3 linked regions of the Homo sapiens genome follow. The protein of the gene in region 1 purifies or fractionates together with the protein of each later gene. This does not show direct contact. Each region holds a gene or a part of one and is shown in the gene's direction. Other genes may lie near its edges.

The links.
Region 2: the proteins of AGMAT (region 1) and CYP24A1 purify together in Homo sapiens (affinity purification with mass spectrometry; one large-scale study listed by BioGRID and IntAct). This does not show direct contact.
Region 3: the proteins of AGMAT (region 1) and DCX purify together in Homo sapiens (affinity purification with mass spectrometry; one large-scale study listed by BioGRID and IntAct). This does not show direct contact.

The regions. Positions count from the first base shown.
Region 1 is NC_000001.11:15,578,425-15,582,079, reverse strand, and holds part of AGMAT (guanidino acid hydrolase, mitochondrial precursor), read left to right. Parts: intron 1-1,937; coding exon 1,938-1,986; intron 1,987-3,025; coding exon 3,026-3,221; intron 3,222-3,655. UniProt on the Homo sapiens protein: Hydrolyzes linear guanidino acids to form urea and the corresponding amines. Displays specificity for substrates having a negatively charged head group and short chains including taurocyamine, guanidino propanoic and butanoic acids.
Region 2 is NC_000020.11:54,152,934-54,156,569, reverse strand, and holds the end of CYP24A1 (1,25-dihydroxyvitamin D(3) 24-hydroxylase, mitochondrial isoform 1 precursor), read left to right. Parts: exon of another isoform or gene 1-1,808; 3' UTR 1,809-3,124; downstream 3,125-3,636.
Region 3 is NC_000023.11:111,398,547-111,402,201, reverse strand, and holds part of DCX (neuronal migration protein doublecortin), read left to right. Parts: intron 1-871; coding exon 872-1,212; intron 1,213-3,655. UniProt on the Homo sapiens protein: Microtubule-associated protein required for initial steps of neuronal dispersion and cortex lamination during cerebral cortex development. May act by competing with the putative neuronal protein kinase DCLK1 in binding to a target protein.

The DNA.
Region 1 (3,655 bases):
TCAGGCTGGTCTCGAACTCCTGACCTCAGGTGATCTGCCCACCTCGGCCTTCCAAAGTGTTGGGATTACAGGCGTGAGCCATTGCGCCCGACCTATGCATGGCATATCTGAAGCTTCAATAAATGTTAACTGTTATTATTATCAGAAAGAATACTTTCCTAGGTCTGTGCTGTCCAGTAAGGTAGCCACTAGCCACATGTGGCTACTTAAATTCTTTTTTTTTTTGAGACAGAGTTTTGCTCTTGTTGTCCCGCTTGGCTCACGGCAACCTCCGCCTCCTGGGTCCAAGTGATTCTCCTGCCTCAGCCTCCTGAATAGCTGGGATTACAGGCGCGTGCCACCACGCCCAGCTAATTTGTTGCATTTTTAGTAGAAATAGGGTTTCAACATGTTGGCAAGGCTGGTCTCGAACTCCTGACCTCAGGTGATCCGCCGCCTCAGCTTCCCAAAATGCTGGGATTACAGGCGTGAGCCACCACGCCCGGCCTAAATTCAAATTAATTAAAATAAAATATTCAGTTTCTTAAGTCATATTAGCTACATGTATGTCACATGTGTGTCACATGTGGATAGTGGCTACCATATGGGCCAGTGCAGATAGAACATTGTCATCATCATAGAAGGTTCTATTGAACAGAGCTATTCTAGGCATTTTCCTAGAATACTGTGAAAAGGCAATTCCTAGAGTAGCTCTTAACTTGTCTAATTTCCTCTTTTATTTATTTATTTTTGAGACACGGTCTCACTCTGTCACCCAGGCTGGAGTGCAGTGGTGCCGACATGGCTCGCTGCAACCTTGCCCTCCCTGGGCTCAGGTGATCCTTCCACTCCAGCCTCCCGAGTAGCTGGGTCTACAGGCGTTTGTCACCATGCCCAGCTAATTTTTGTATTTTTTGCAAAGACGGGGTCTTAATGTATTACCCAGGTGGACCTTGAATTCCTGGGCTCAGGCGATCTGCTTGTCTTGGCCTCCCAAGGTGTGAGCCACTGCGCCTGGTCTATTTTTATTTTTATTTTTTAGAGACGTGGTCTTGCTGTGTTGCCCAGGCTGGTCTCAAACTTCTAGGCTCAAGCTATTTATTTATTTATTTTATTTTATTTTTTGAGATGGAGTTTCACCCTTGTTGCCTAGGCTGGAGTGCAGTGGCGCGATCTTGGCTCACCGCAACCTCCGCTTCCTGGGTTCAAGTGATTCTCCTGCCTCAGCCTCCAGAGTAGCCGGGATTACAGGCATGCGCTACCATGCCCGGCTAATTTTGTATTTTCAGTAGAGACGGGGTTTCTCCATGTTGGTCAGGCTGGTCTTGAACTCCCAACATCAGGTGACCTGCCCGCCTTGGCCTCCCAAACTGCTGGGATTACAGGCATGAGCCACCGTGCCCAGCAAGCTATTCATTTTTTTGAGATAGTGTCTTACTCTGTCGCCCAGGTTGGAGTGCAGTGGCACGATCACAGCTTACTGCAGCCTTGACCTCCCAGGCTCATTCAGCATCCTGCCATTCTATAAGATCTTACTGTAGCTGTGGTTATAACTCCCCCCAGGCTGAAAGGGTGAAAATTGAGTTAAGATTATTCAGCTGGGCATGGTGGCTCATGCCTGTAATCCTAGCACTTTGGGAGGCCAAGGCGAGTGGATCACTTGAGGTCAGGAGTTTGAGACCAGTCTGACCAACATGGTGAAACTCCGTCTCTACTAAAAATACAAAATTAGCCAGGTATGGTGGTACACACCTGTAATCCCAGCTACTCGGGAGGCTGAGGCAGGAGAATCGCTTGAACCTGGGAGGCAGAGGTTGCAGTGAGCCGAGATTGTGCCATTGAACTCCAGCCTGGACAACAGAGCAAAACTACATCTCAAAAAAAAAAAAAAAAAAAAAAGATTATTCTATGTAATCCTCCAATTCACTTTCCAGATGTTTTCTTCTTCCTCTTTGCAGGTGGAGATCACACAATCACATATCCCATATTGCAAGCGATGGCAAAAAAGTAAGTCTCAAATGGCTTGGGCCCAGCAAGATTTCAAAAGCCAGAAGCTAGGGAATGAGTTATTTGCTGTTTGGTGGCATTAGGTGACTGCTGCTGGCTCAGGTTATGAGCTGCTTCTGGGGATCAAAATTAAGGTTGAGCTCCAGGTGTCTCTGTCAGTCAGCAGCTAGAAGCCAAGACAATTTATTATTAACAGTTCTGGCCACCCTCCCTTGCCCTAGATCTCTCCTGGTATGTGTGCTCAGCATTTTCAACTTGCTTCTGTTTTTGGAAGATGAGCCTCTAGTGAAATACACAACCTCAGTTAACTTCAGTTTCTGTTTTGCTTCAATGGCCAAAAACAAACACTGACAGGCACAATGGTGGACCTTGCTGAGAGGCCCTTGTTTCCTCCTGAAAGGGCACCTTTCTCAATCAAAAGACTGATTTGCCAGTAGTGGAAGTCTACCCAGGATTGGCCGACTTTGGCTAATTTAGTTTGAGAAAGAGACAGAAGGACCCGGGTGGAGGGTGGCAGCTCCAGAATGTGTCTGTGGAAGCACATGTGGGTGGCATTCTGGTTGGAGGTGGGAGGGTGCAGGTCTTTGCTCAAAGCTGCATTTATTCCTCACGGATTTGGATCAGATGTTTATTTTGGGTGGCTGGCAGGGGTTGATGGAGGTTATGGAGAGAGCTGGATTAAAGCTTCCTCTTCCTCGGTTGGAGAAAGGGTGTGTCTTGGTTTAGTTAAGCCTTCAGCCAAGCTCCCCTGTGCCACCACCCTTGATTCTCATCCTGTCTCTAAGTGAAGCAAATTCTGGGTGATAGGTGTGGGTGGCAGCCAAAACATGTCTATTTCCTGCCTGACTTCTGTGAGTTTATTGTTCCTCTGAGATGCAAAGTGATCTCAAGAAGACAGGAACCAGTTGCAAGGCAGAAAACGGATGCCAGGTCTCCCCTTTTTGGCTGTGAATTGTCACCAAGTTTTGGTGGCCCGAAGGGTGGCTGTGCTAGGGCCCCACAGGGAGGGTTGGCCTCTGAGCTGCCCTGTTGTCATCAGGCATGGCCCAGTGGGGCTGCTGCACGTGGATGCGCACACGGACACGACCGACAAGGCCCTAGGAGAGAAGCTCTACCACGGGGCGCCCTTCCGCCGGTGTGTGGATGAGGGTCTCCTGGACTGTAAGCGTGTGGTGCAGATTGGCATCCGGGGCTCTTCCACGACCTTGGATCCCTACAGATACAACCGGAGCCAGGTGACAGACCGAATGCCCCCCACCCTTGCCCCTCAAAATGTCTTCCTCTCCGTTGCCTCACCAGTGGCAGCCAGGGATTGAGCGGGGGCTTTACTAATCAAGTCTGAAGCAGGGATACAAGGCTGAGTTTGCATCATCAGGGGCATAAGGAGCATAGGAGTGAGGAAGTTGGTTTATGGGCCATGGGAAGTCTATCGCTGGGCGGGGGAGACAAGCAGAAATCGACCAACCCCTCGGACGGTGCTGGCTTAGAAGAGGGGAGGAGGCCGGGCACAGTGGCTCACACCTGTAATCCCAGCACTTTGGGAGGCTAAGGTGGGTGGATCACCTGAGGTCAGGAGTTCGAGACCAGCCTGGCCAACATGGTGAAACCCCGTCTCTCCTAAAAATACAAAAATTAGCCAGGTGTGGCGGTGCGCACCTGTAATCCCAGC
Region 2 (3,636 bases), on another chromosome or scaffold:
AGAGGAGGATCTATTCTCTTGCTAGTTTGGTTGTTGGCAGAATTTAGTTCTTCATGGTTACAGGACTGAAGTCTTTATTTTTTTGCTGCTGTCAGCTGAAGGCGATCCTCAACTTTGAGAGATTTCCCATATTCCTTGGCTCATGAAACCTTCCCCAACTGAAAGCCAGTAACAATGGTTGGTTGAGTCCCTCTCACACTTTGAATCTCTCTTTCTTCTTACATTGCTTCTGTCTGACAAGATATTATCCAGGATCATGTCTCCCATCTCCAAGTTCATAAATTTAATTTCATCTGGAAAGCCCTTTTTTTCATATAAGGTAGTATATTCACGTGTTCCAGGGATTAGGGCATTCACATTTTAGGAGATCTGTTATTCTGCCTACAAAGGCTGTGTTCTGATAAATTTTATAAAAAACAAGCGGTGGACTGTATTTAGCCCTAGGGTCTAGGTTTGTGTTATGCAACCACATGTAATATAAATGTATATATTTATCAGCCTGTATTGAACACAATAGAATATTTTTTCTGCAGTATGCCATTCAATACTTTTTCTGACAATAGAGGAGTTCTCATGTTCCCTCCACAACTTTTGCCATGTCCATATACCAACCAGGTGCTATTTATTTCAATACTACTGAGTTATTTCCTTTAAATAACATAAGCCAAATAGCATATGTTGGCCTCGTCCTGAGTAATAATTTCCTTAATGAAATTAAGAGTTAGTAAGTCTAGTTATGTTCTCCTAATAGACATTACAATGAATTCAAAACTATTGAAGTGATCAAAAGTTAGCCTAAGAAGGCCCTAATTTTTTTTTTTTTTTTTTTTTTTGAGACAGTGTCTCACACTGTCACCTGGGCTGGAGTGCAATGGTGCAATCTCAGCTCACTGCAACCTCCGCCTCCTGGGTTCATGCGATTCTTCTGCCTCAGCCTCCCGAGTAGCTGGGATTACAGGCAGGTGCACACCACCACACCCAGCTAATTTTTTGTATTTTTAGTAGAGATGGGGTTTCATTATGTTGGCCAGACTGGTCTTGAACTCCTGACCTCGTGATCCACCCGCCTCGGCCTCCCAAAGTGCTGGGATTGCAAGTGTGAGCCACCACCCCTGGTGGTGGAAATAAGACATTTGTAACATATGGCTTTATAGGCTGACATGTCGGTGTTTAAACCCGGATTCTATCATTGTGTTCTTTTAGCAGCACCTTCTAGGATTTTCCTAGAAAAAAATGCTGTTTGCCAATGGCAAGTTAAGGAGCATTTGCTTATTGGTAGATTATTTAGAGAAACATGCAATTACAGATGAAATTTCTGAACAAGGCCCAAATGAATACATTATTATTCCTCCACCAAGTGTCTGATGCTATTATGAAATTTGTCAAATTCTGAGCATCCCAACCAACAGAACTGAATCAAGTAGGGTAAGGAAAGTATTCTAGCTGCATTGTGACACCCCAGCCTTCAGCAAAGAGCATGCATGTTTATCACAGTAAGCCACACCTTTTAAGTTTTAGCATTTTTTCTTTGGCTAATAATTTGTCTTGTTTAAATACACTTCTTTGATATACAATTAGGGTATACCTTTTTTTTTTTTTTTTTTTTTTTTTTTTTTTTTTTTTTTTTTTTACCAAGACCAAAACAGCCATTTCAACTTTTCTGCAAGAATGGTGCTTATGGCTTCTACGTTACCGGAAAGCAAACTTCAAACACCACACCATACAACAGCTTATAAAGAATATTTAGGCCCAGGTGTTGATACTTTTTCTTCTGCAAAATTGTTCCAGAAGCTGTACTGTCTTTCTAGATGGTGGTATTTGCTAACATCATATCCAACTCAGGGAAGCGGACTGAGTGCTGGGATCCAAGGCATTCTACAGGGTTCACTGCTGGTTTACACTTCACCTGTGTCAGCACCATCTTCAGGTGCTTAGAATGGCCTGGGAGCCTGTTCTGTCTTGCATCTTCCATGACATGAAAGGGAGGCTGGCACTTGTCAGTCAGGTAGAGGTTACAAACCGTTTCAGGCCCTGCCTACCACATTCACTGTTTGAATCTTTAATTCCCAAGAATAAGTTTACATTTCACAATGAATGACCTACAACAGCTAAATTTTCTGGGGCTGGGAGTAATACTGACAATCCATTTACTGTAGCTCTGCTTAATGTACTACTTAGGAAAATGTCCCTGCTTAATAATGTAAGCCAAGCTAAATGATGGTTAAAGTTATCAGGCCTCCCATGAAATTGCGTTCTTCCTGCATTGAAATAAAAACATTATTGGGAAACTAGAGAACACCTCTATTTTTAAAAGGACTTTAACGAAGTCAAACAACTTATAAGACTAGTGATTCACTGGGGCATTATTTTGTTAGAGGACCTTAAAATTGTTTATTTTTTAAATGTGATTCCTTTATGGCATTAGGGTAAAGATGAAGCAATAATTTTTAAATTGTGTATGTGCATATGAAGCACAGACATGCATGTGTGTGTGTGTCTGTGTGTGTGTGTCCGTGTATGTGTGTGTGGGTTCTAATGGTAATTTGCCTCAGTCATTTTTTTAATATTTGCAGTACTTGATTTAGGATCTGTGGTGCAGGGCAATGTTTCAAAGTTTAGTCACAGCTTAAAAACATTCAGTGTGACTTTAATATTATAAAATGATTTCCCATGCCATAATTTTTCTGTCTATTAAATGGGACAAGTGTAAAGCATGCAAAAGTTAGAGATCTGTTATATAACATTTGTTTTGTGATTTGAACTCCTAGGAAAAATATGATTTCATAAATGTAAAATGCACAGAAATGCATGCAATACTTATAAGACTTAAAAATTGTGTTTACAGATGGTTTATTTGTGCATATTTTTACTACTGCTTTTCCTAAATGCATACTGTATATAATTCTGTGTATTTGATAAATATTTCTTCCTACATTATATTTTTAGAATATTTCAGAAATATACATTTATGTCTTTATATTGTAATAAATATGTACATATCTAGGTATATGCTTTCTCTCTGCTGTGAAATTATTTTTAGAATTATAAATTCACGTCTTGTCAGATTTCATCTGTATACCTTCAAATTCTCTGAAAGTAAAAATAAAAGTTTTTAAATATTTGAGAGACTTCCCCTCTTTATTGCCTTTGTTACAACAAAATAAAAACAAATTCAAACTTTATTTTACTGGTAGAAAATTTTCTCATATGGCCTACAAGCCCTATATCACAAAATTTACCCTTAGATAAATCTAGACTTTAATAGCAGTTTTACTGAAAGTTTATTCTTGTAATTGCAAAATAACTTTCCATTTTGTTGCTGCTTAAATATTTCCCAAGTCCAGTTACTTCTATCTCTACCCCCTTTCCAATCACACAATCAGTCACACACTGGTTGTGTGATTGAAAGGGGGGTAGAACGGCCTGGGAGCCTGTTCTCTCTTGTATCTTTCATGACATGAAAGGGAGGCTGGCACTTGGCAGTCAGGTAGAGGTTACGAACCATTTCAGCCCCTGCCTACCACATTCACTGTTTGAATACTTAATTCCCAAGAATAAGTTTACATTTCACAATGAAAGACCTACAACAGCCAAATTTTCCGTGGCTGGGAGCAATACTGACAATCTCTTGCCTGG
Region 3 (3,655 bases), on another chromosome or scaffold:
TATAATGTATTCTCACTTCTTTACCTCATTACTTGTGGCAGCCAAGGGTGAGCACTGGTGAAGATGACCCTGAATACACAGATCTTATGTGCATCCTTTGAGAGGATGGAAAGATGAAGGGTGAGTGGTAGAAACATGAGAGTATTTTTCAAGCAAAAGCTAAGGTGTTTATATGTACTGGTTGTTATTTAGACAGTTTCTCTACCTAGTGTAGCATAAGGAGTAGAGGACACACTTATACACACATATAAACATTCAACATATGCACACACATTTCACATTTCAATATTCCATACTTGGCCATATACTCTGTGCAAAGGATGACCTGGTTTCTTATCAAGTATGTATGTATGCCTGATATACAAGGTTACTTGGTTCATTTTAACTTGGCATAAAAATGTTTTAACTTTGAAAGTTTTCCTTGGTTCATAATATCACAAAGGGATGGGACTTTGAGTCCAAAAATAGGACAGGGATTTTAAGAAATAGAAATGTTAAAAATTCTCCAGTAATGCCCCTGAAAGCTAAACATCCTAGAAACTAACATAAATGTTTAAATTCCAGAAAAAACCATATCAAGCTTGGAACTCCACTTGTTATATTAAATTTAGATATGCTCTTTGTCCTTAGAACCCTTAGCTTTACAGAGTTCTTCAACTAGGTGTGTCATTATATTGAAGGATGTTTTGAGAATTACTCTTGAATTTGGATGAGCCAAGTTTTTAGCCCAATTAGGAATTGCACCTAAGGTTGGTTAGTATCACCATTTATTGAAAAGTTCTACTCCAGTGTCAGTGTGTATTAGTTTGGTTAGAATAATCCATATATCTGCTATTAAACTAATCACCTAATCACTTATTTCTTGCCTTAGGGGAAAGCTATGTCTGTTCCTCAGACAACTTCTTTAAAAAGGTGGAGTACACCAAGAATGTCAATCCCAACTGGTCTGTCAACGTAAAAACATCTGCCAATATGAAAGCCCCCCAGTCCTTGGCTAGCAGCAACAGTGCACAGGCCAGGGAGAACAAGGACTTTGTGCGCCCCAAGCTGGTTACCATCATCCGCAGTGGGGTGAAGCCTCGGAAGGCTGTGCGTGTGCTTCTGAACAAGAAGACAGCCCACTCTTTTGAGCAAGTCCTCACTGATATCACAGAAGCCATCAAACTGGAGACCGGGGTTGTCAAAAAACTCTACACTCTGGATGGAAAACAGGTAGGTACTTTTTCAAAGTACTTTTCCCGTTTTTTCTAAATTCTTAGATGATCATGTTATACCTAAAATATCATTTCTTGTTGACGGACTCTTCCTCCACATCTCATCATCACAACCTGATATTATAGGTTTCATTTGGAGAAAAGGTATTTTTAGCAGGCAAAGCAATGAATCAGGAATCTGAGGCTTTGAAATTCAATCTGCTTCTGATTTACCATGCAGAAAGGTCACTTAGCCTCAGCTTCCTTATCTGCTATGAAAGATGTGTTAGAACCTAGGTTCTATGAATTCTTATGAATATGAATTTAGCTATTATATGATGCAACCTTCATTGTTCAATACATGTGACTGAAAATGATATTTGCCCATTCATTACTTTTTAGATACCCTCACATTGATGCTCAGCATCTATTTTGATAAAAGGAAGTTGAAGTGACCTTCATATGCTCTGAAAGAAGTCAGATACGGGGAAAGCACTGAAGCCTCTGGCTCGTTGTCTTTGCCTCACACTAAACCATATTTATTCTCTTTCTCTTTTCCATATGACATAGCTGTCTTAATTTGGTTCCACTGATGGTTTGTGTGAGAAAGGGACTATTTCAGGATCCTAAAATTAGCCCAAGAAAGATGCTGCCATCTGTTCCCCCTCCAAATCAGGTTCTTCATGTCATTGGTTATACTACTAAAGTGCCACCTATATTAATATCTGGGAAAGAATGCAGCCAGGCGTCTCCATCAGACAGATGCACCATTCTCTTAAGCATAGGGAGCTGTAAATATACAACAAAAATGTTCCAAGGGAATTGGAACAGTGGCTGGTTCTGTTGGCTCTAAAGAGAATTCTGGTCTCCCATCAGAAAAGACAAGTGTGGATTAGTATCAGTCCATATATTCTACCTCTTAAAATGCCTTTGGTGTTTAAACAACTATATAGAAAAGGTATTCCTAAAAGGCGGATTCACTATATATCAAAGTTACTGATGAGTGTTCAAATGCAGACCTGTGCCTCCTCCTATAATTTCTGATAGTAATGTGTGCTCCAAGATTTTAAGTTTCAGGGAAAACTCACCCAGGTACTGTGTACTTTGCAATTTTGAGAAATATTTGGCTTTGTTTCCCATCATTTTGCGATCTGAGAGCTACCTGGACACATTGGTTATACCTGACTTCTGTTTGTTGTACTGAAGCAATGGGTTTGTCTGTGATGTTGGGAAAATCTCCAATTCCCAAGCATTTCTCTAAGAGTGTCTATCTTCTAAGCACCATGTATGTAATAAACAGGAGCTGTCTAAGTATAGGCCTGATTGCCAAAGCCTCATCTCAGAGAAATAGGACATAGAAAGTTTAGAATCATTGGATCACAGAGTTGAGAATGACTTTAGAAGCCATGACATTTAATCTTCCACCTAAGGCATGGATATCCTCTACAATCACTCTATAAGACTATAAGACAGCCTATTTCACTGTTCAACAGCTGTGATTTTTAGAGTTTCTTTATATTAGGCATAAATCTGATTCCCTGTGCCTTCAGCCTTCTGAAGTAATATAGGAATATGCAAATCAAAAACATAAGACTGGGATTAAGAAGATTTGGACTTTAGTCTTGATATTGTCACTTAACCACTTAACTGTCCTGAACCTCACACTCCTTCTCTGTACAAAAGGACTGATCACACCTGCCCTGAGCATGCTCACAGGACTCTTATGAGGATTAAATCAAATAATGGATATGAAAGCACTCTGTAAATTGACACATGGATGTATATATATATATATGCATATAATTCATCATTAAATGAGATTTATGGCAATTTTCATATATTAATAAATGTTAGCTCTCTTTCTCCTACTTTATTTATTTATTTATTTACTTTTGGAGTCAGAGTCTCACTCTGTCACCCAGGCTGGAGTGCAGTGGTGTGAATTTGGCTCACTGCAACCTCTGCCTCCTGAGTTCAAGCAATTCTCCTGCCTCAGCCTCCCAAGTAGCTGGGACTACAGACGCACGCTGCAATACCCGGCTAATTTTTTTGTATTTTAGTAGAAACGGGTTTTCACTGTGTTGCCCGGGATGGTCTTGAACTCCTGAGCTAGGGCAATCCGCCCACCTTGGCCTTCCAAAGTGCTAGGATTATAGGCATGAGCCACCATGCCTAGCCTCTTCCCCCTACTTTATCTCTATCATTCTTATTATAAATTTCCAACATTTGTGAATATATACCATGCCTTGGCATTCTGCTTTTGTTCCAAATAATATATAAAGGGACACCTCCATCTCCTAGGGAAGCAAGCTCCAGTCCAGTGATGCATAGGGTTTTGTCCTACAGCAGGCCATGCAGAGTGGCAAGCTCTCTCAAACTCCTTTAAACATCAGTTCCCTTTCTTTGGGGGACATATTACAAAATACCAGCATATGATATGACATTCATATAGAGAAATAGAG